5 linked regions of the Homo sapiens genome follow. The protein of the gene in region 3 purifies or fractionates together with the protein of the main gene of each other region. This does not show direct contact. Each region holds a gene or a part of one and is shown on either strand. Other genes may lie near its edges. The genes, in order: ZMYM4, RNASEH1, MZF1, NUDT12 and LBR.

Region 1 (3,984 bases), on a different chromosome or scaffold from region 3:
AATGAAAATGAAATACAAATTCAAAATAAGTTAAAAAAAGACTTTCCTAAACAATTTGATCAGGTTTCTGTCTTTAAATCAATACGGAAAGATTTTAGTCTAGTAAGAGAAAACAGCAAAGAGACATTTTCTGGAAAGGAGAAAAATAGAGACCTAACTTATGAACGTGAAAAACGGTTGGATAAACCCCATAAAGATTTGGATTCAAGGTTGAAAAGCAGTTTTTTTGATAAAGCAGGTAATAATTGTTGGACTTAGAACCATAAAACACAATTAAAAATTACCGATCATAATATATAGCTTTTATTACTTTTGATGTTAAGTGAAGTATGAACGGTTAAATTCATTGTAAGCTTGTCATTTTTCTTTTGTCCTTGTTCTTTGCAGAGTGACTGAATTTCTCCCAGTAACTTTTGGTAATGGTATAAATGGTTGAAAATAGCTCTAAACCTCATTTCTCCCTCCCCTGGTTGCAATGTTTTGATGAGAAAGGCAAGATACTTGAATCACCTGTTCATTTTCTTTGGTTGAACATTGGAACCTGAAGTTGGATTTAACTTCTTTGTGCTGTAAGCACTAATTCAAACTGCTGTCTCACCACTTAGTCCAAATTAGGGAGTTATTTTATTTTTTTAATTTTAATTTAATTTTTTGTTTATTAACTCTCACCTCTATCTGAAAGGGAGTTTTTTTTTAATAAAAAAAACCCAAACATTTCTAATTTATGTTTTAGAAGTTTCTTGAGGTTCCTCCTGAGCCTCTTTGCCCAGTGTACCCTATACTTTAGCTTTAGTTAACATTCTTGAATATATCACATATTTCCTTCTATGCCTTCCTTTCCTCCTGCTATTCCATTTGCCTGCATGTCATTTTCTCTCTGTATATTTGCTTGTGAAAGTACTTCTTATCCAACAATGCCTAACTCATAAACCTCTTCTACTCTGTCATCATTCTAACTGCTCTACATCAAGAATGGTTTCCTTATCTATATTTCCACAGCATTTTCATGCCTCATTATTTATAGTACTTATCACACAGTATTATAGTTCTATATTTGTTTTACCTTACCTACTAGTGTAGGAGTTGAGGGCCAGATTGTATCTTACTCATCTTTGTATTCTTGGGGCCTAACCTGGTGTAGTAAAATAGTAATTCTTCAATAAATGTTCAATAGCTGTGAAGGAAAGCAAGTATTCTATACCAGTCCTTGTATTTCTTCTAACAATGCTAGGAAATGTATGGTAGAAAGAACAAACCAGTATTGTTAAAAAGACAGCTTTTGAGTATGTACAAGTCTGTGCAAGGATATACTATATTTTTCTCTATAATTCAGTATATATTTCCAATATCCCTTCTTGGGGTATGAGAGTCATGTTTCTCAAGGAACATAATGTCTAGTAGTAGAATGGACAAGACAAGTCAGGCCGTAGAAGTGCCAATGTCCAGCTGAATAGCGTAAGATTTAATTTACAGTTAAAGACAGTGGTAGAAGAGTTTGTCATAAGGCAGTTCAAAAAGATGTCTTTCAAATAACTGAAACTGTGTTTTAGGGATTCTTAGAAGAGAGATGATTTTTAACTTAGTGAACAGGGAAGGTTTTATAGAGGAGAGGTGAATTTTTAACTGAGCTGAGTCTGGAAAACTGTATAAAGATTAGGATAGACAGAGGGGACTTGGAATAGAATAAGTAGAAATGGGGGAGAACAAATGCAAGCAATTTTCAGAGCAAAAATAATTTTTTTTTTTTTTTTTTTAGGTTTGAGCAAGGAAAAAATGTAGGGTAAGGCTAAAAGCTAGGTGGGGCCAGATTGTGCAGAACTTTGAGTGAAAATACCTTTTGGGTGTTTTTGGGACCCAGTTCACTCTAACGAGCATCTTTGTTGGAAAAGAGAGGTGATTATCAAATGATAGCTTTTTAGGTCACTCTTTGTAAGATTTGTTATTCATATACATGTGTTTGTTTGTTTTTTTTTTCCTTTCAATAGCTAATCAAGTTGAAGAAACATTACATACCCATTTACCACAAACCCCAGAAACAAACTTTAGGGTAAGTTTTCAGTGTGTATGTAGATTGCTGTAACTGTGACAAGTGTCAAAGTTTTCTTTATGTCAGTTTCTAAATTCTAACAATGTATTAGGTAGAGCACTGATTTTTTTTTTTTAATTTGCTTAATATTTGTTTAAGGTCATCATCGGAGACATTCTAAAAAGCCTCAAATCTTAGGGTCTTTATTTGTATTTGGTATTTGGACATATAACACAATTACTTTTAGGCGTAGGCATAAGATCCAAAAGCTAATGAATGTCCATAGAGTTCTTCATTTCCAATGAGCTTTTCTTTGGGTGTTAAACCTGAAGAGGAATCATTTTAAAATCTGAATATTTATTAATCCTTTATATTGTGTTTTAGGATTCCAGCTACCCATTTGCCAATAAAGAATCCATTGGTTCGGAACTGGGGAATTCCTTTGCATCAAATATTAGAATTAAAGAAGAACCTTTGGATGATGAGTATGACAAAGCAATGGCACCACAGCAGGGACTACTAGACAAAATAAAAGATGAACCTGACAATGCTCAAGTAAACATTTCACCTTTTTTCCCCCCTTCTTTTTGTTCCACACATTGAATTATTCATTTGAGAGAGGAAGTGCTTAAGAAGTGAAATAGTTTGTTGACAGGGTGAAAGGAAACTCTTAAAGAAGGTTGAGGCGATTTGAATTACCATATAAGGCATTAACGAGCTATATGAAACTTTTCCTGAGTAGTAATTAAGGCTTTTAATCATCTTTGTTTCTTAATACCACTGTGATTTTTGCAATGCATTTTAGCGCAAGGCTTTGAGAACTATACAGCAGATATGGTTGAAGATTTATGGTAGTTTATAAGTTTGTGGTGCAATCAAGTTTATGTAGGATAGTAAGCCTTTTGCAGTTAATGCTAATGAAGTACAGGCTATATATGGATTTAAATATTTTTCAGGAGGGGTTAATGGACAGATCATCTTTGGAAGGGTTAATTGATTGAAGAACCAGTTCATTGGATTAGTGGATAGAAGGTAAAGGAGGCTTTGATGAATGATACATGATTCCAAGTTTGAGATCTGTGAGTAATAAGAGTGAAGGTAGAGCTCTGCTATTTCAAGGTTGCTCTGGAGATAAAATCATAGAGATCTTAAAACTGTGAGGTCCTGAAGTCAGCTAAGCTATCCATGCAGTTAATGATGTTGCTGTTGTTGGAATAGAAGAAAAAAGTTATATCAGATGCTGCAATCATTTTGAAGTGCAAGAAGGGGTCCAAGGGACGAATATGCAATAGCAGCAATTATTTGAGGGTATCTGTGTTTTGTAAAGATGGTATGAATTGGCTCTTTTTCTGAAATGACATTTAATCTGGGGGAAGCTTATATTTTCCTATCTTTCTGTTTATATTAGAAGGTTTGAGACTGTCAGACTTCTGTGGAAGTGCTTTCTTTTTCTTTTCTTTCTTTTTGTTTTTTCTCTTTTTTTTTTGAGACAAGGTCTTGCTCTCTTGCCCAGGCTGGAATGCAGTGGTGCAATCACTGCTCACTGCAGCCTCAACCTCCCAGGCTCAAGTGAACCTCCCAGCTCAGCCTCTTGAGTAGCTGGGACCACAGGCGTGTACCACCACACTGGCGAATTAAAAAAAGATTTGTAGAGGGGCCAGACGTGATGGCTCACGCCTGTCATCCCAGCACTTGGCAGGCTGAAGCCAGCAGATCACTTGAGGTCAGGAGTTCCAGACCACCCTGGCCAACCTGGTGAAATCCCATCTCTACTAAAAATACAAAAAATTAGCCAGGCATGGTGGCGGGTGCCTGTAATTCCAGCTACTTCGGAGGCTGAGGGAGGAGAATCACTTGAACCAGGAGGTGGAGGTTGCAGTGAACTGAGATTGTGCCACTGCCCTCCGGCTTGGATGACAGAGTGAGACTTTTTTTTTGGTAAAGTAAGTTGCACAAGC
Region 2 (3,984 bases), on a different chromosome or scaffold from region 3:
CAGAGCTTACAGTGAGCCAAGATCACGCCACTGCACTCCAGCCTGGGTGACAGAGTGAGGCTCCATCTCCAAAAAAAAAAAAAGAAAAAAAGAGCACACACCTGCCATATGACCAAGCATTCCATTCCAAGGCATTTACCCAAGAGAAACAGAAGACAAAGACGAGGATATAAATGTTCACGGCAGCTTTATTTGCTTTATTTTTATTTAGAAATTGGAAATAATCGAAATATCGGTCAACAGGTAAATAAATAAACTGTGGTATATCCATGCAATACAAAATGTGGATTATTGATGTACACAAAATGGGTGAATGCCAAAATAATTATGCTGAGTAGAAGCACCTCCCCCCACAGTACTTGCTCTGCGATTCCACTCAGATAAAATTCTAGAATATATAAATTAACCTTTAGTGAGAGGGAGCAGACCAGTGGTTGCCTGAACATGGAGGACACGAGGGACGGTTTAGACCGGGGTGTGAAACTGCTGTTGGTGGTGATGGACATGTTCTGGCGACAGCTTCACAGGCAAATGCATCGGTCACTTCACGTATGTGCAGTTCATTACCTGTCAGTTACACCTCAACAGAGCTGTTTTAAAAAGCAAGGTGGGGCCGGCTTTGGTGGCTCACACCTGTAATCCCAGCACTTTGGGAGGCCAAGGAAGGAGGATCGCTTGAGGCCAGGAGTTTAAGACCAGCCTGGGCAACACAGTGAGACACTGTTCCTATTTTAAATAACAAAACAAAACAAAAGTGGTACAATAACAACTTTTAAAACTCAAAAAGAAACAAAGAAAGAGATAAAAGAGATTCAAGAGACAGTGGCAAACACTGAGAACAGCCAATTTAGATTTCAACATACAGATAACAGGGATCCCCACAGAAAAAAGCCAAAGCAAGAAAAATGTAACACTAAACTCCAGTTCAAGCAAATCTTCTTAAAATAACAGATATGAAGTACACATAGAAAGAGCACACCATACGCTTGCAAATATGGACCAGGACAACCAATACCAACACATGACACATTCGAATAAAACGGCCGACTTGACAGAAAAAGGAAAAAATCCTTTGGGCATCTAAGGAAAAACAGCATATGACTGTCAGGGGAAGAAAACAAGATTCATCAGGCTTTTCATGCATCACTTTATGCTGGAAGAAAACAGAATAAAACAAGATACTCAAAGAAAATCTGGGCCAAGAATTTCGTATCCAGCAAAACTGAATTCAACATCAGAAACTCAAGGAATACTGTCCCCAAGATGACACTGACTATAGACTGGTTATGAGACCTGAACACACAGAAATGAGTCAATGGTGGTAAAAAGGAGCAATTTTTCTGACAACGTAGACACAGTGCTGTTTTCATCATCACAATTAATGCTATGGTATTAGTATTTTTTTTAAATGCTAAATGCTAAAGAGGAATAAAACAAGTGAGTGATTAAGGGATGGATATTCCATGCCATTGTCCTGTGTCTTGAGAAGCAGGATTCCGAGTGCAGGAGACACAGACATCATATAGAGGAGGCTATGTAAAGGCCCCAGGACCCTGAATTTGTATTGGGAATATCAATATAGGCTCAGAAAATATTCTTCCTTTAAATATGTGTGTGCAATGTTTGTATTTTTTTAAAGCTCCGTCCAAAAATCTAGAAATAATGACCAACGCAATAGCAATGAGCATCCTAAACTGGATCTGAAATACCATCTCTACCAGAGACTCTGGGAAAAATAATGGATTCCAAGTGTTAAACGGAATTAAGTTTGGCCTAAAACTGCCTCTGTACATAGTGACTTATAACCTCACTTAATGTATAAGCAAACTGGGACCTGACTTGAGAGTACACTTCTGTAACAAGCAGCAGAGTCTCACCAATCACATGCTGAAGGCTCCCAAAACATGCCTATGTGAGGTGGAGGCTGACCTGCAGTCAGTCTGGCCATGTACATGTGTCTTTCCCTTCCTGTGGCTATAAATAAATACAGCCTGCACACAACGCACAGGAGAACGTTCTGAACCACTTTTGGTCCTGAGTGCTACCCAGCTGAAGAAACTATTTTCTGCTCAATTAAACTGCTAACTTGTCTAAAGTTTTTCTTTTAAGACAGGTTTGGAGCAGAAGCTCTATAAATTGGGCCTAGAGCATCTTGACATGCCAGGCTGCAGGGAGCTATCAATGACTGTGCGTGTGGTCTGTGCACACATGTATGCACACATGTGCACACTTATCAAAAGAAAGCAAGAGCCAAGCTGAAGAGGCTCCCTCTCACTGACCGAATAAGCTAGTCTGAGCTAAATAAAGATAAAAATCACAACGGATTGAAACCCACCAAGTATGCTTAACTCCACAAATTCTTTTTTTTTTTTAAGACAAGGACTTGCTGTCGCCCAGGCTGGAATGTGGTGGCATGGTCACAGCTCACGCATCCTCGACCTCCTGGGCCCAAGCGATCCTCCCATCTCAGCCTCCAGAATAGCTGGGACAACAGGCAGGCACTACCACACCCACCTGATTTTATTTTAATTTTCTGTAGAGACAGGGTGTCACTATGTTGCCCAGACTAGTCTCAAACTCCTGGGTTCATGTGATCCTCCAGCCTCAGCCTCCCAAAGTGCTGGGATTACAGGCATAAGACACCATGCCCAGCCCATGAATTCTTGTATATATGTAAAAACCCTTCACCACTCACCTTCCTTGACAGACAACTAATGCATTATCTTAAAAACTTAGTGTACAAGAGCAAAGAATCAAGCATTTATCCTGCCCTTCCTATATGAACTGTACCACTGGGTAACCAGATAAGTATAAAAAAGAAAACACTTTCTTAGAAAACCATTCCAGCTAATAAAGGCAAGCAAAACGACAGAATGAGAATACCACCATTTTGCAACCCCAAATAATTAATGGATCTTGGCACTGAGCATCAGCTGCCGTCAACATGGTACTTTCCTGAGGAAAGCTCCTAACCGCCTGTTCTCCTGCCAAAGGGATCAAATTTGAGGCTCATCAAGCCTCTGGACCCAGCTGCCAATGTGCAGGAAACATAGAGGACCATGCTGAACTACACCATGACCACGTGGTCAGCAAAATCTACACTGTGGGAAGCCATGGGACAAACAGCCCAGGCTCTTCAACAGATAAACGGCAGGGAAAACAGTGAGGCCGACGGGACTGCAAATGGACACTGAAGTAGATAAAAAAATAAACAAAAAAAAGCAGACAAGACTAAACTGCCATCAAAAAACCAAGAAAGTCATTTCTGTAAAAGTCAGGATTACTTGTTGGGGCAAGGAGGGGGAGAAGAAGAGGGCTGTGGCTGGAGGGGCACTTGGGAGAGCCTCCTGGGGTATCTGGCAAAGTACTATTTCTTCACCAGGTGGTGGACACAAAGGTTATTCACCTTACAATCATAATCATTCAATAAGCTATACATTTGTTTTGTGTCACTTCCTGTATGTTTTTATAATAAAAAGGTTTAAAACTAAATAAATAATCATGTCAAACTTTTACTACTTTTTTTTTTTTTTGAGACAGAGTCTCACTCTGTTGCCCAGGATGGAGTGCAGTGGTGCAATCTTGGCTCACTGCAACCTCTGCCGCCTGGGTTCAAGTGATTCTTGTGCCTCAGCCTCCCAAGTAGCTGGGACTACAAGCCCGTGCCACCACACCTGGATAATTTTTGTAATTTTAGTAGAGACAGGGTTTCGTCATGTTGGCCAAGCTGGTCTCAAACTCCTGACCTCAAGTGATCTGCCCGCCTTGGCCTCCCAAAGTGCTAGGATTACAGAAGTGAGCCACTGTGCCCAGCCGGTGTCTTACTTTTTTTTTTTTTTTTTTAATTTGCACAGTTTTTAACGAAAGAGCCAAATAAATTTTTGAAAGTTTATTTATGCTTCTTGGTCTTTATGAGTCGCAGCTGTTCCTAGAGAATGGCCTAGCAGCCAGGGTCGCCGCAGGCAGGCTTTGCCCTATACTAAC
Region 3 (3,984 bases):
TGGGGGAGCGCCAGCGGGTGGTGATCAGAGCAGGGCCCACACCCCGGCAGGGATCCTCGTCCGTGGGGTCCTGTTCACTCCTCAGATCGCTGGGGAGCAGAAGCGCATGCGCAAAGCCACCTTCGCGGGAGGGTGATTGGATCTGGCCAGAAAGGCCAGCCATGCCGAGGTCCCAGGGGACGTGGAGGTGAGGGCTTACACTACCTGGACCTGCGGAGATGCTGCCTAGCTGCAGCGCGAACCCTGCATACACAAGGGGACCATTCATTCATGACAGAATGCCCACCGTGCCGGGACCCACTTCATCCCTGGGGACACAGTGTGAACTACAGGGACCTGAAACTGACCAAAGAGGCAGACGGAGGCGACAAATGCAGGGGTAGGGATTCTATCTGTACAGACTTCCCTGATGAGGTGATAATGAGACAGAACCCAGCACAAGGAGGAAGACTGGGCTATGTGAAAAAGCTTTCTAGGTCTGATTTAGGTTGGAAAAAATCGTTTTTGGAAGGGCTGTAGGGCAAGCGTGGGGGCATTGTCTAGGTGGAAAATGATGGTCTCAGCAAATGCAGGGAAGTGGGTGGGTCTCGGAGGCTGGAGGTGGAGCCAACAGAAAGAGGGTGCAGGCTCCTGGATAGTGGTCTGGGGTTTGGATGTGCCTTGCTTGTGATGTCTGTGGGGCATCTGAGGAACACAGACTTCATGAAGGCTGTGGGGAAACGTGAGCAAGGGCTCTAGGGCATACACATGGCACACAGAACCCGGGCCTGCAAGTGATCAACACAGGGGTGGGTATCTACAGAGGAGAGAAGTGGGTCCCAGCCACACTGTGAGCACTCCAGCGTCAGACGCTGGGTGAAGGAGGAGGCACCAGCAACTCCAACTGAGAATCAGGGCCTGGAGAAGGCGGAAGCCTGGAGGAGGTTAAATCAAGAAGACTGAGAGAGCAGTGAGGGCTTTTAGTGGTGAGAGAAAGTCCATAAGTCGCCAAAGAAAAGTCAGATAAACTAGAATACATCAAAGGAAATCAGCAAAAACCACATCAGAGTCAAAAGACAAATGGCCAAAAAACAAAAAAAATTAAAAAAGGACAAATGGCAAACCAAAAAACTCTCCACAGGCAAAAGGCTAATTAACCTCCTAAGTAAAGAGCTACAATAAATCAGTAAGAAAGATCAATAACCTCATAGACACATGGGCAAAGGATGTGAACAGGACAGGAAATGTAGCTAATGCTTATATCCCATAAAATACACTCCATCTCCTCCTAGTAAGAAAAATGCACCTTAGGGCTGAACTCATCTGCCATTTCCACACCCTGACTGCAGGGACCCAAGTGTTCCTATGTATTGCTGGTAAGCATAAATGGGAAGACAGTGTGGTAAAATCCATCAAAACAGCAAATGTCCCACACTTTGTTCAAGTAATTCAATTTTTAGGTACTTCTTCAACAGTTGTGTTCCTCCTTGTACTAAGTGACCTACATACAAGGTTTTCAATGGTGTGTCCACAGTGAGCCACAGTGGGGTTCTGTGTAGCTACCCAAAGATGTAGAGCACTTGCTGCTGTGTACTTAAGTTGGAAGATGCACAAAAAATGCCAGATGTGGAACAGGGTGGAGAATAAGCATCCATGTGTGTGTTTTTTTTTTTTTTTTTTTTTTTTTTTTTTTTTTTTGAGACTGAGTCTTGCTGTGTCGCCCAGGCTGGAGTGCAGTGGTGTGATCTCGGCTCACCGCAACCTCTGCCTCCCGGGTTCAAGCGATTCTGCTGCTTCATCTTCCTGAGTAGCTGGGATTATAGGCGTGCACCACCATGCCTGGCTAATTGTTTGTATTTTTTTTTTTTTTGAGACGTAGTTTTGCTCTTGTTGCCCAGGTTGGAGTGCAATGGCGTGTTCTCTGCTCACTGCAAACCTCCATCTCCTGGGTTCAAGCGGTTCTTCTGCCTCAGTCTCCCGAGTAGCTGGGATTACAGGCATGCACCACCACACCCGGCTAATTTTGTATTTTTAGTAGAGACAGGGTTTCTCCATGTTGGTCAGGCTGGTCTCGAACTCCCGACCTCAGGTGATCTGCCCACTTCAGCCTCCCAAAGTGCTGGGATTGCAGGCGTGAGCCACCGCACCTAGCCAATTTTTTGTATTTTTAGTAGAGACATGGTTTCACCATGTTGGCCAGGCTGGTCTCGATCTCCTGACCTCATATGATCCACCCGCCTCGCCTTCCCAAAGTGCTGGGATTACAGGTGTGAGCCACCACGCCCAGCCCGTGTGTGTGTGTGCGCACTTGAGACGGAGTCTCGCTCTGTTGCCCAGGCTGGAGTGTAGTGGCGCCATCTCAGCTCACTGCAAGCTCCGCCTCCCGGGTTCACGCCATTCTCCTGCCTCAGCCACCCGAGTAGATGGGACTACAGGCGCCCGCCACCACGCCTGACTAATATTTTGTATTTTTAGTAGAGACGGGGTTTCGCCGTGTTAGCCAGGATGGTCTCGATCTCCTGACCTCGTGATCCGCCCGCCTTGGCCTCCCAAAGTGCTGGGATTACAGGCGTGACGTGCCGCGCCGGGCCCATGTGTGTTTTAAAGGAGAGGAATGGGGCTGGGCACGGTGGCTCACGCCTGTAATCCCAGCACTTTGGGAGGCCGAGGCGGGTGGATCACGAGGTCAGGAGATCGAGACCATCCTGGCTAACACGGCGAAACCCCGTCTCTACTAAAAATACAAAATATTTAGCCAGGCGTGGTGGCCGGCGCCTGTAGTCCCAGCTACTCGGGAGGCTGAGGCAGGAGAATGTCGTGAACCCGGGAGGCGGAGCTTGCAGTGAGTCGAGATTGTGCCACTGCACTCCAGCCTGGGCGACAGAGTGAGACTCCGTCTCAAAAAAAAAAAAAGAAGAGGAATGGGCCAGGCATGGTGGCTCACGCCTGTGATCCCGGCACTTTGGCAGGCAAAGGTGGGCGGATCACCTGAGGTCGGGAGTTCCAGACCAGCCTGACCAACATGGGGAAACCCCGTCTCTACTAAAAAAATACAAAATTAGCTGGGCGTGGTGGAGCATGACTGTAATCTCAGCTACTTGGGAGGCTGAGGCAGGAGAATGGCTTGAACCGGGAGGTGGAGGTTGCAGTGAGCCGAGATCGCGCCATTGCACTCCAGCCTGGGCAACAAGAGCGAAATTCCATCTCAAAAGAAAAAAAAAAGGGAATGAACATGTGTCTGGGAATGTCTTTGCTTCTGTATGTACAGAATCTTTTTACAAAGACACATAAGAAACAAGCAGTGTTGGCTGCTGGAGAGTAAGACTGTGTGGCCCAGGCAGGGAAGGGGCATTCCACTGTATACTGTCTTGTGCCTTTTGAATTTCCTAACATATGAATGTATTAGCTATTCAGAATAGTCTCCTGATGAAGACATAAAAAGACCTCTCTGAGCCAGGTGTGGTGACTTGAGCCTGTAATTGCAGCTACTTGGAAAGCTGAAGCAGGAGGATCACTTGAGGTCAGGAGTTCAAGACCAGCCTGGGCAAAACAGCAAAACCCTGTCCTTTAAATAAATAAAGCAAGACTCCATTTCATAAATAAATAGATAGATAGATAAACCTCTCTGGCTGCAAAGAAAAGGCACAGTTTTATTCCCAAGACTCTTTTTTTTTTTTTTGAGACTGGGTCTCACCCCCATTGCCCAGACTGGTGTGCACTGGCACCATCTCAGCTCACTGCAGCCTTGACTTCCCTGGCTTGGGTGATTCTCCCACCTCAGCCTCCCAAGTAGCTGGGACTACAAGTACGTGCCACCATGCCCAGCTAGTTTTTTGTATTATTTTTTAGTAGAGACAGGGTTTTGCCATGTTGCCCAGGATGGTCTCGAACTCTTGGACTCAAACAATCCACCTGCCTCCGCCTCCCAAAGTGCTGGGATTACAGGCATGAGCGGCTGCGCCTGGCTAAGAAGATTCTAAAAACTCAGGAGTTGGAGGTACCTGG
Region 4 (3,984 bases), on a different chromosome or scaffold from region 3:
GAACTACTAAATAACTCATTGGCTAATTTATGTAAAAATGTAGCACAATTTTTCTAACTTAAAACTTTGTAACCTTTTTCATTGAGAAATTATTTCTTTATAGCAAAGCAAATTTATGAGGAGTCTAATTATAAATTTTCCTCCCAAATAGAAAATGCAGATCTCACTATGACTACCAAGGACTTCTTGTAGAATTTTGGTATCTCTTTATAGTGCATAAAGCTTAATACTGTTTTATTTTGTGAGTAATTATCCAGAAAGTGTAAGTATCCACTGTCTCTTAACTTTTTGTCATTTATGATTGTTCTTTTAACCTTCCCAATAGTAAACTATGTAACAAAAGAAAAAAAATCTATGTAATCATTAAAAAGAAGGACTTTAATATGTATCTGGAAATATTTTAGTGAAATAAATACGGAGAAAGTGTTTACTTCCTATTTTACTTTTTCTCCCCAATTTTTTCTTCCATCTATAGGTGTGACAGATCAATTGTCAATAAATCAAGGCAGACTGCACTGGACATTGCTGTATTTTGGGGTTATAAGCATATAGCTAATTTACTAGCTACTGCTAAAGGTGGGAAGAAGCCTTGGTTCCTAACGAATGAAGTGGAAGAATGTGAAAATTATTTTAGCAAAACACTACTGGACCGGAAAAGTGAAAAGAGAAATAATTCTGACTGGCTGCTAGCTAAAGAAAGCCATCCAGCCACAGTTTTTATTCTTTTCTCAGATTTAAATCCCTTGGTTACTCTAGGTGGCAATAAAGAAAGTTTCCAACAGCCAGAAGTTAGGCTTTGTCAGCTGAACTACACAGATATAAAGGATTATTTGGCCCAGCCTGAGAAGATCACCTTGATTTTTCTTGGAGTAGAACTTGAAATAAAAGACAAACTACTTAATTATGCTGGTGAAGTCCCGAGAGAGGAGGAAGATGGATTGGTTGCCTGGTTTGCTCTAGGTATAGATCCTATTGCTGCTGAAGAATTCAAGCAAAGACATGAAAATTGTTACTTTCTTCATCCTCCTATGCCAGCCCTTCTGCAATTGAAAGAAAAAGAAGCTGGTAAGAAATGAATGCTGCTTTTCATTGGTAAAATCTGGTTTTTAGACTTGAGTTGGAGTTGTATGTATTTGCACTTTCCAGGGGCACTCTTTTTCCAGTAAGCAGTGAAATTAGACTGTCTTCATCAGAAACTTCTTAAAGTTCTCACCCTAGGGGACTACTCTCCTGGGCAGTTAGTAGTTCTAATCAGCCCAGACTGATTTCCTGAGAATTAACCCTGGTGCATGATGATCTCATTTGATTCTTCATTGAATAATTCTTAGTTCCTGCTACACGTAGAACATGATGGCAAAGACTTTGACTGTTTTGTTTTGTATTCTGTTGATGGGGCTTTTTATGGCATGGTAAGAAATTGGGGTTTGATTCTAAAGCCATTTAAATGTAACCTAACCTGTGTTTAAAATATTTTTTTAAAAAAGACACTGCACACTGGCTGCATCATAGAGCATAAATTGTACACATGTAAGTAAGTAAGTGTGAAAGTTGGGAGTCTTGTTAAGAGGGAATTGAGTATTACAGGTGCCCAAGTAAGAGATTGCAATGGCTTGAGTTAGAATGGAGGCAGTGGAGATGGAGACAAAGGGAGAATCTGAGGTATTCTCGAGGTAGAAGGGATAGGGCTTGATCTGTAGGTTGAGACCCTTATAAGTGAGAGATGGTGGTAATATGGCATGAATTAAGGTACTGATAGTAGAAATGGAGGAAAGAGGGTATATGCAAGATAAAGTTTGGAGAGAAAATCACTGGTCTTTGCTATTGAATTGGATATGGGATATATAATAATGAAGGAAAAGATTAAGAATGACTGCTAGGCTAGAGACTTTAATAATTTGGTATATAGTGATACCATTTCTCAATAATATAGGATGATGGTTAGAGCAAGGAAAGCAGGACAGACTTGGATTAAAAAAATCAAGAGTTTACTTTTGGGCATACTAAGTTTTAGAAATGGACATTACAATCAGATGTCTGAACTGGAAATACCCATATGGCAGTCATCAACACACAGATACTTAAATCCCAAAAAACTACTGAGATTACTTGGAGAGTTGAGAGGAAGCAAGAAAAACTCAGAATAAGACCTGAATCCCCCTAAATTTAAAGGTAAGCTGCAAGCAGGAGAGCCATCAAAGGAGTTGGAAACAGTGTGGCCATGAGGTAGGAAGAGAGCAAGAGGCCTCAGGGAAACCAAGACAGCAGAGTATTTCCAGGAGGGAGTGGTCAAATGTATTGAATGCTGTTATGAACTTGAGTAAGATGAAGGCAAAGTGGTTTTTTTGTTTTGTTTTGTTTTTTAAAGCATCTTTGTCTTTGGTAATATGAAGCTATTGATGAACTTGACAAGAGAAACGTCAGTGGAGTGAAACGAACAGAAACCAGATTATGGTAGACTGATGAGTTACTGGGAAGTTAGGAATAGGTCACTTGTCAGTGACCACCTTCCCTTAGGTGATAGAGGTCCTTCCAGAGACTGCTTAAATATCTCCTCCTCAAAGTCTGGTGTGGTATGTTTTATTCTCCACACCTGTGGAGAAATCATCAAACTTTTTTAAGAAAATTTATTTTCTTTAGACATATATATATATATATATATATATCATTTTAAGATCAAAAAGATCTGATAAATGAGCTAGTTGCTTGCTTTTTTCCCTTGTAGGAAAACTGAGGCCTTTTAACTCACTTGCTCTATAAGTTTACACAGTTACTTAACTTTTCTGTGACTCAGTTTACTCCTAAAGAAAATGATAATAATAGTATCTATCTTCTTTAGGGTTGCTCTAAACATTAAATAATCTATATAAAATTCCTTGCATGGTGCTTGGCACATTGTAAGTACTCAATAAATGTTAGCTTTTCTTATTGTGATGATTCTGAAATAATGTAAATACCCTAGTGTAAGTTACATATTACAAGGTTACGTAGCAGGCAAAAACGTAATGTTGTCTATTCATTACAACTGTTTTATTTATTTTTCCCAGTTTAAACGATGTTAGAATTTTTGTTATTATTTTGTTCATTTCAAAAATCTGTAGACCAAATAATCTATTTTAGGGAGGGTAACTTTGTCAAGCATTTAACATATAGCATTTCTAGTCTTATTGCCTCAACTGTAATATTTCTGGCCAGGCCATATTAACTTTTTTTGAACTACCAGAGTAAAACCTATAGCTAAAGTGTATATATTTTAAGATTTATCCTATTAGGCATTTTTTGGTAAACAAAGTTAACCATGAATGTAGTAAATGCAGTGTGTTTTATACTGTGTACATGCAGTCTCCAGTTGAAAACAGGTTGTGTTCCACATGGCTTGGACCATCAATGGCATAGTCACCAAGAGAGTGGTGATAGCCTCCTACAGTTTCCTAGTAATATTTCCTTTAGAGTACAAATCTCACTTAAGAACTGACTTTGTGGTATATTTTTATTAAAATCACTATTGTAAAATCACTGTTTGTAAACTTACTCTACACTAGAATCATGAATACCCCAAATTTTAAAATCACCTACAGTAAAAGCCTGATCTAATATAGGATGTAAGATAGATGTCAGTATGTCTATCTTATATGAAAGTTATATTTTATTCAAACAAAAAAATCTAATTTTTGTAATCCAGAAAATTAAATCTTTTACTTTAAAAGAAGAATACGCATTATAAAAATAGAAATACTAAAACCCCTGATCACACAGCTATTCTTATTGTAGCTTGAGAACATTTTACTTATATATTGATTTTAATTTCTTACAGAATTAAAATTTTTGTGCTTTTCTTTTTTTTGAAGGGGTTGTAGCTCAAGCAAGATCTGTTCTTGCCTGGCACAGTCGATACAAGTTTTGCCCAACCTGTGGAAATGCAACTAAAATTGAAGAAGGTGGCTATAAGAGATTATGTTTAAAAGAAGACTGTCCTAGTCTCAATGG
Region 5 (3,984 bases), on a different chromosome or scaffold from region 3:
CACGCCTGTAATCCCAGCACTTTGGGAGGCCGAGGCGGGTGGATCACGAGGTCAGGAAATCGAGACCATCCTGGCTAACACGGTGAAACCCTGTCTCTACTAAAAATACAAAAAATCAGCCAGGCATGGTGGTGGGCGCCTGTAGTCCCAGCTACTCGGTAGGCTGAGGCAGGAGAATGGCGTGAACCCAGGAGGCGGAGCTTGCAGTGAGCTGAGATTGCGCCACTGCGCTCCAGCCTGGGTGACAGAGCAAGACTCTGTCTCAAAGTCTGTGTGCCTTCTATCCAGAAAAGAGGTTAACATTAAGTGAATAGAAGATTACTTTTATTCTTTTTACTTAACATACTTTGTCTTTGGTCTACTATCTAAAATACTATTTGTACAAGATCTACAGGCTCCATGCACCCTGATATTTCAAAGCTTACATCTTGAAAGTAATTCCACTAAAATCATCTTTGAATAGGTAAAGTGATAAAGTATAATGATGCTAAGAGTAAGAATGTTTCCGTAATACAGGTTTGTCTTACCATTTCATACATGATATGAACTTTTATACACTGTAAAAACCTTACGCAGTTCAATCTACAAGCTACATCTATTTCAAATTTGAACGCTGCTTTTTTAAAAACTAAAATATTAAATAGCATTTCTGGTAACTGAAGGACATTCTTTTCCATTGATATTTAAAACTTTCTATTCCAAACATTTGTTTTATATGAAAACTCCCAAAGTCATCAACTTAGATTTGATGTTTCAGTGACATTTTAATATTATTAACTGCAAGTAACTTGAGTAAATATATACATAAAGCGGAAGACAAAAGGCTGTATAAGGATAAACACAAGTACCAGAATCAGCGGAGTCAATTTAACTTCCACTTCCCTCCTTGCTTCCTTAATGTCGGCCTGGTGGGAAGCAGAAGCAGATCGGCGGGCACTTTTAGGTGGTCGACCAGGGGATCGGGAGCGTGACCTTGATCGACTCCCTCGGCGTCTGGAAGGGGAACTGGAAGTTGAGCCACCTTTCCTTTGCCTAAAGGAAGTTAAAGGCTAGAAAGGGGGAAGAAGGCAAAGAGCTTTACCACAAATCATAACACATACAGACAGACCCACACTAGAAGAGGATAACAAAGGCAGGAACTGCTACCATTAACTCTAAAATCAGCACGGGAAATGTTAGGATCTGAGAATGGATCAGATGAAGCCAATGGAAAATGCTTTCATAATGATCCATCTTTCATGAGACAAATGCAGCCTTTCCATTCCTGTTCTTTGAAGGTATTTCCATGAAACGAATGTATCTAAACCAATTAGCTGTACTTATTTCCAACACCATATGCAAGAAGGGTAATAATTAACATGGATTAAAACTGAGACGACAGGACAAAATAAATAAGCACACAGACCAAAAAAAAAAAAACAGTACCACAGTTTCACTCTGAACAAAACACATAAGCAGATCTTGAAAATAAAACATGAGCTTGGATGACTGGGAACTGTTTCACTGTGTCCCCACCTACTCCGAATCTCCTTATGTTGCTTCTAGGGATGTAGACAAATTACGCCCCAGGCCAAGTCCCTCACCCCAATTTTTGTGTGGCCTTCCTACTAAGAATGGCTTTTACATTCTTAAATGATTACAAACAAAATCAAAAGAACAGTATTTCCTGAAGTGTGAAAATTATCCAAAATTCAAATTTCACTGTCCATAAAGTTGTACTGGAACACTGCCATGTCTGCTCCCTTCCATACTGCCTGGAGCCGCTCCCATAAAGTCTAAAATATTTACTTTCTGTGCTTTATTCCTGGTCTAGAGCACTCGAAGTGTCATCCTCAGCCATGGGTCCTAGAAATGCTCGTTACTAATCTGTGCAAGTACCAAAATTGAGAAATAGGTGTATGGAAATGTTTATAGCATTTTGACAAAGTAATCTCATATCTATCGAATCTGATAGTAAAACTGTGAGTCGTCTATTGTGTATGTCTTTATTTTTCTAGTAACTCATTTTTATGGCATTTTATATAAATGTTTGTATACTACGGATCAGATATCTTAAAACCCAGGCCCTCACCAGACAGGTTGAAAAGCCCTGGGCTAGACTCGAATCTAATTAATGTCACTCTCCTGATTAAATCCTTGGTGTTCAGGATGAAGCCCAAACCCTTGGGCATGGAATATAAAAGCCCCCCCAGCCTGGCTCCTGCTTAGCCCTCCCCTACCACCCCCTTCCAGCACTTGGCTGACTGTGTCCCCCAGACCCCTGACTTTGGCATACTGCCCTCTCTGCAGAAACAGCCCCATCAACTGCTGTTTTTCCTGTTTGTTCTCAGCACTTGGCTAGGTGTCACTGCCTCTGAAAGCCTCCCCTGAAGCCCAGGGCTCTTCTCTACCCTTGATACACTCAACACCACCCACAGCAAACTCCAGACACAGAACGTAGTAAACCCAGGGGACCAACAGATGCAAATGGCTGTCTTTCCCAGTAAGTGTGAGCTTCTTGGGAACAAGGACTATGCCTCATTCATACATTCCCAGAGCCAAAAACAGTATGTGACCCAAAGCAAGAGCTCAATCCTCTGCCTTCAAACCGAGCTGAACTGACTATCCTGAGCTTAGAAACCATACTTAGAGTTATTTCCCACTTACTGTAAACACACTCTGATAAACCAAAGGAGCTCTTACCTTAATATCATTCTCTTTCAATTCAAGCTCTGTTCCATCTTTATACTTCACAGTGTAAAGCTGGGAGGTGCTGTCGTGGCTCAGAATTTCTACTTCATAATAAAGTGAACTCCCAGGCCATCGACCTCTTACCACTTCACCATCGGCAAATTTCCTACTTGGCATTTTCTATAATTAACCTGAATAGTTTTAAAGAAAAAAATTTGAGTCAATACATACACATTTATGTATTCGTCTTTTTCCACAGGCTGATCACTAAAATACAACTTTCCAGAATTGACTGGTCAGGATTTTAGGGCCAGAAAGGCTACATTCAATCTCATTTGGAATCATTTGAGAGGATGATTTAGCCACTGCGTTATCTATGTGACACTAAAGATTAATTATAACAATGTATATAGGCGCCATAAGTTCACACTATGTAAAATGTTACCCACCTACCGTGATCACAGTTCTCGCTAATCAAAAAATGAGGCACAATCTCACAAAGAACACATTTTCTCATTTGTAAATTTGCGTATCAATTTACAATGGCTTTAAAAATGCATTTAATTGTATTTTTAACAAATTGCCTTTATTAAAAACAGCAAACTATAAACCAGACTGGGAAAATCAAGGATGTACAATTAACATGACTATAACCCAACAATAGGAAGAAAAATAATTCCAAGTCTGTAATGAATAAATTTGGGGGTTATTTAGCTTTCAACTCTTACAGCTAAAGTACAAATGCATACCAAGTAACTCTGCCAACCACCCACCTAAGCCAGGGTGGTTGCCTTCATCCAAGCTCACTTCTCTCAAGCCTACAGCAGCCATCAACCCCCAATTATAACATTCTTTTCCTCTGATTCAAAACATGGCCCACAAGCCCCACAATACTCTAGGAATCCACAAGCAATCTGCAAGAACTGCCACTTACGTGAGGCCTGTCTGCCACCCTTTTTGAAATATCAATTGATAGCTGGGTACTTCCAGCTGCCAGACAGTAATGCCGCTCCATCGGCTGACCAGCGGAATCACATTTCCACACAACAAAACCAGGGCTGCCGACCTTCCCCAGTACCACATGAACTAGCTGGGGCCACGTCCAAGGGGCAGCCAGTAGGACAGATATGAGCTGTCTCCCAAATCACCTTCATTTCACCAACTAAGCACTTCTTGATGTATTGTCCAAGCCTATCAATGTACATTCCTCACTGGCTCCTGTTAAGAGCTGATGATACAATAAAAGCAACATTTAGGAACCTTTGAAGACTCTGGAATTAAGGAGAAAGTTGAATTACCTACCCCAAGGGAGTA

What was found.
Region 1: the proteins of MZF1 (region 3) and ZMYM4 purify together in Homo sapiens (affinity purification with mass spectrometry; one large-scale study listed by BioGRID and IntAct). This does not show direct contact.
Region 2: the proteins of MZF1 (region 3) and RNASEH1 purify together in Homo sapiens (affinity purification with mass spectrometry; one large-scale study listed by BioGRID and IntAct). This does not show direct contact.
Region 4: the proteins of MZF1 (region 3) and NUDT12 purify together in Homo sapiens (affinity purification with mass spectrometry; one large-scale study listed by BioGRID and IntAct). This does not show direct contact.
Region 5: the proteins of MZF1 (region 3) and LBR purify together in Homo sapiens (affinity purification with mass spectrometry; one large-scale study listed by BioGRID and IntAct). This does not show direct contact.

The regions. Positions count from the first base shown.
Region 1 is NC_000001.11:35,359,209-35,363,192, forward strand, and holds part of ZMYM4 (zinc finger MYM-type protein 4), read left to right. Parts: coding exon 1-238; intron 239-393; exon of another isoform or gene 394-569; intron 570-1,985; coding exon 1,986-2,047; intron 2,048-2,410; coding exon 2,411-2,581; intron 2,582-2,982; exon of another isoform or gene 2,983-3,058; intron 3,059-3,984. UniProt on the Homo sapiens protein: Plays a role in the regulation of cell morphology and cytoskeletal organization.
Region 2 is NC_000002.12:3,541,260-3,545,243, forward strand, and holds the end of RNASEH1 (ribonuclease H1 isoform 1 precursor), read right to left. Parts: 3' UTR 171-3,984; downstream 1-170. UniProt on the Homo sapiens protein: Endonuclease that specifically degrades the RNA of RNA-DNA hybrids.
Region 3 is NC_000019.10:58,563,262-58,567,245, forward strand, and holds part of MZF1 (myeloid zinc finger 1), read right to left. Parts: intron 244-3,984; coding exon 1-243. UniProt on the Homo sapiens protein: Binds to target promoter DNA and functions as a transcription regulator. Regulates transcription from the PADI1 and CDH2 promoter. May be one regulator of transcriptional events during hemopoietic development.
Region 4 is NC_000005.10:103,555,960-103,559,943, reverse strand, and holds part of NUDT12 (NAD-capped RNA hydrolase NUDT12), read left to right. Parts: intron 1-475; coding exon 476-1,065; intron 1,066-3,845; coding exon 3,846-3,984. UniProt on the Homo sapiens protein: mRNA decapping enzyme that specifically removes the nicotinamide adenine dinucleotide (NAD) cap from a subset of mRNAs by hydrolyzing the diphosphate linkage to produce nicotinamide mononucleotide (NMN) and 5' monophosphate mRNA.
Region 5 is NC_000001.11:225,421,229-225,425,212, forward strand, and holds part of LBR (delta(14)-sterol reductase LBR), read right to left. Parts: intron 2,862-3,984; 5' UTR 2,848-2,861; coding exon 2,683-2,847; intron 1,050-2,682; coding exon 849-1,049; intron 1-848. UniProt on the Homo sapiens protein: Catalyzes the reduction of the C14-unsaturated bond of lanosterol, as part of the metabolic pathway leading to cholesterol biosynthesis.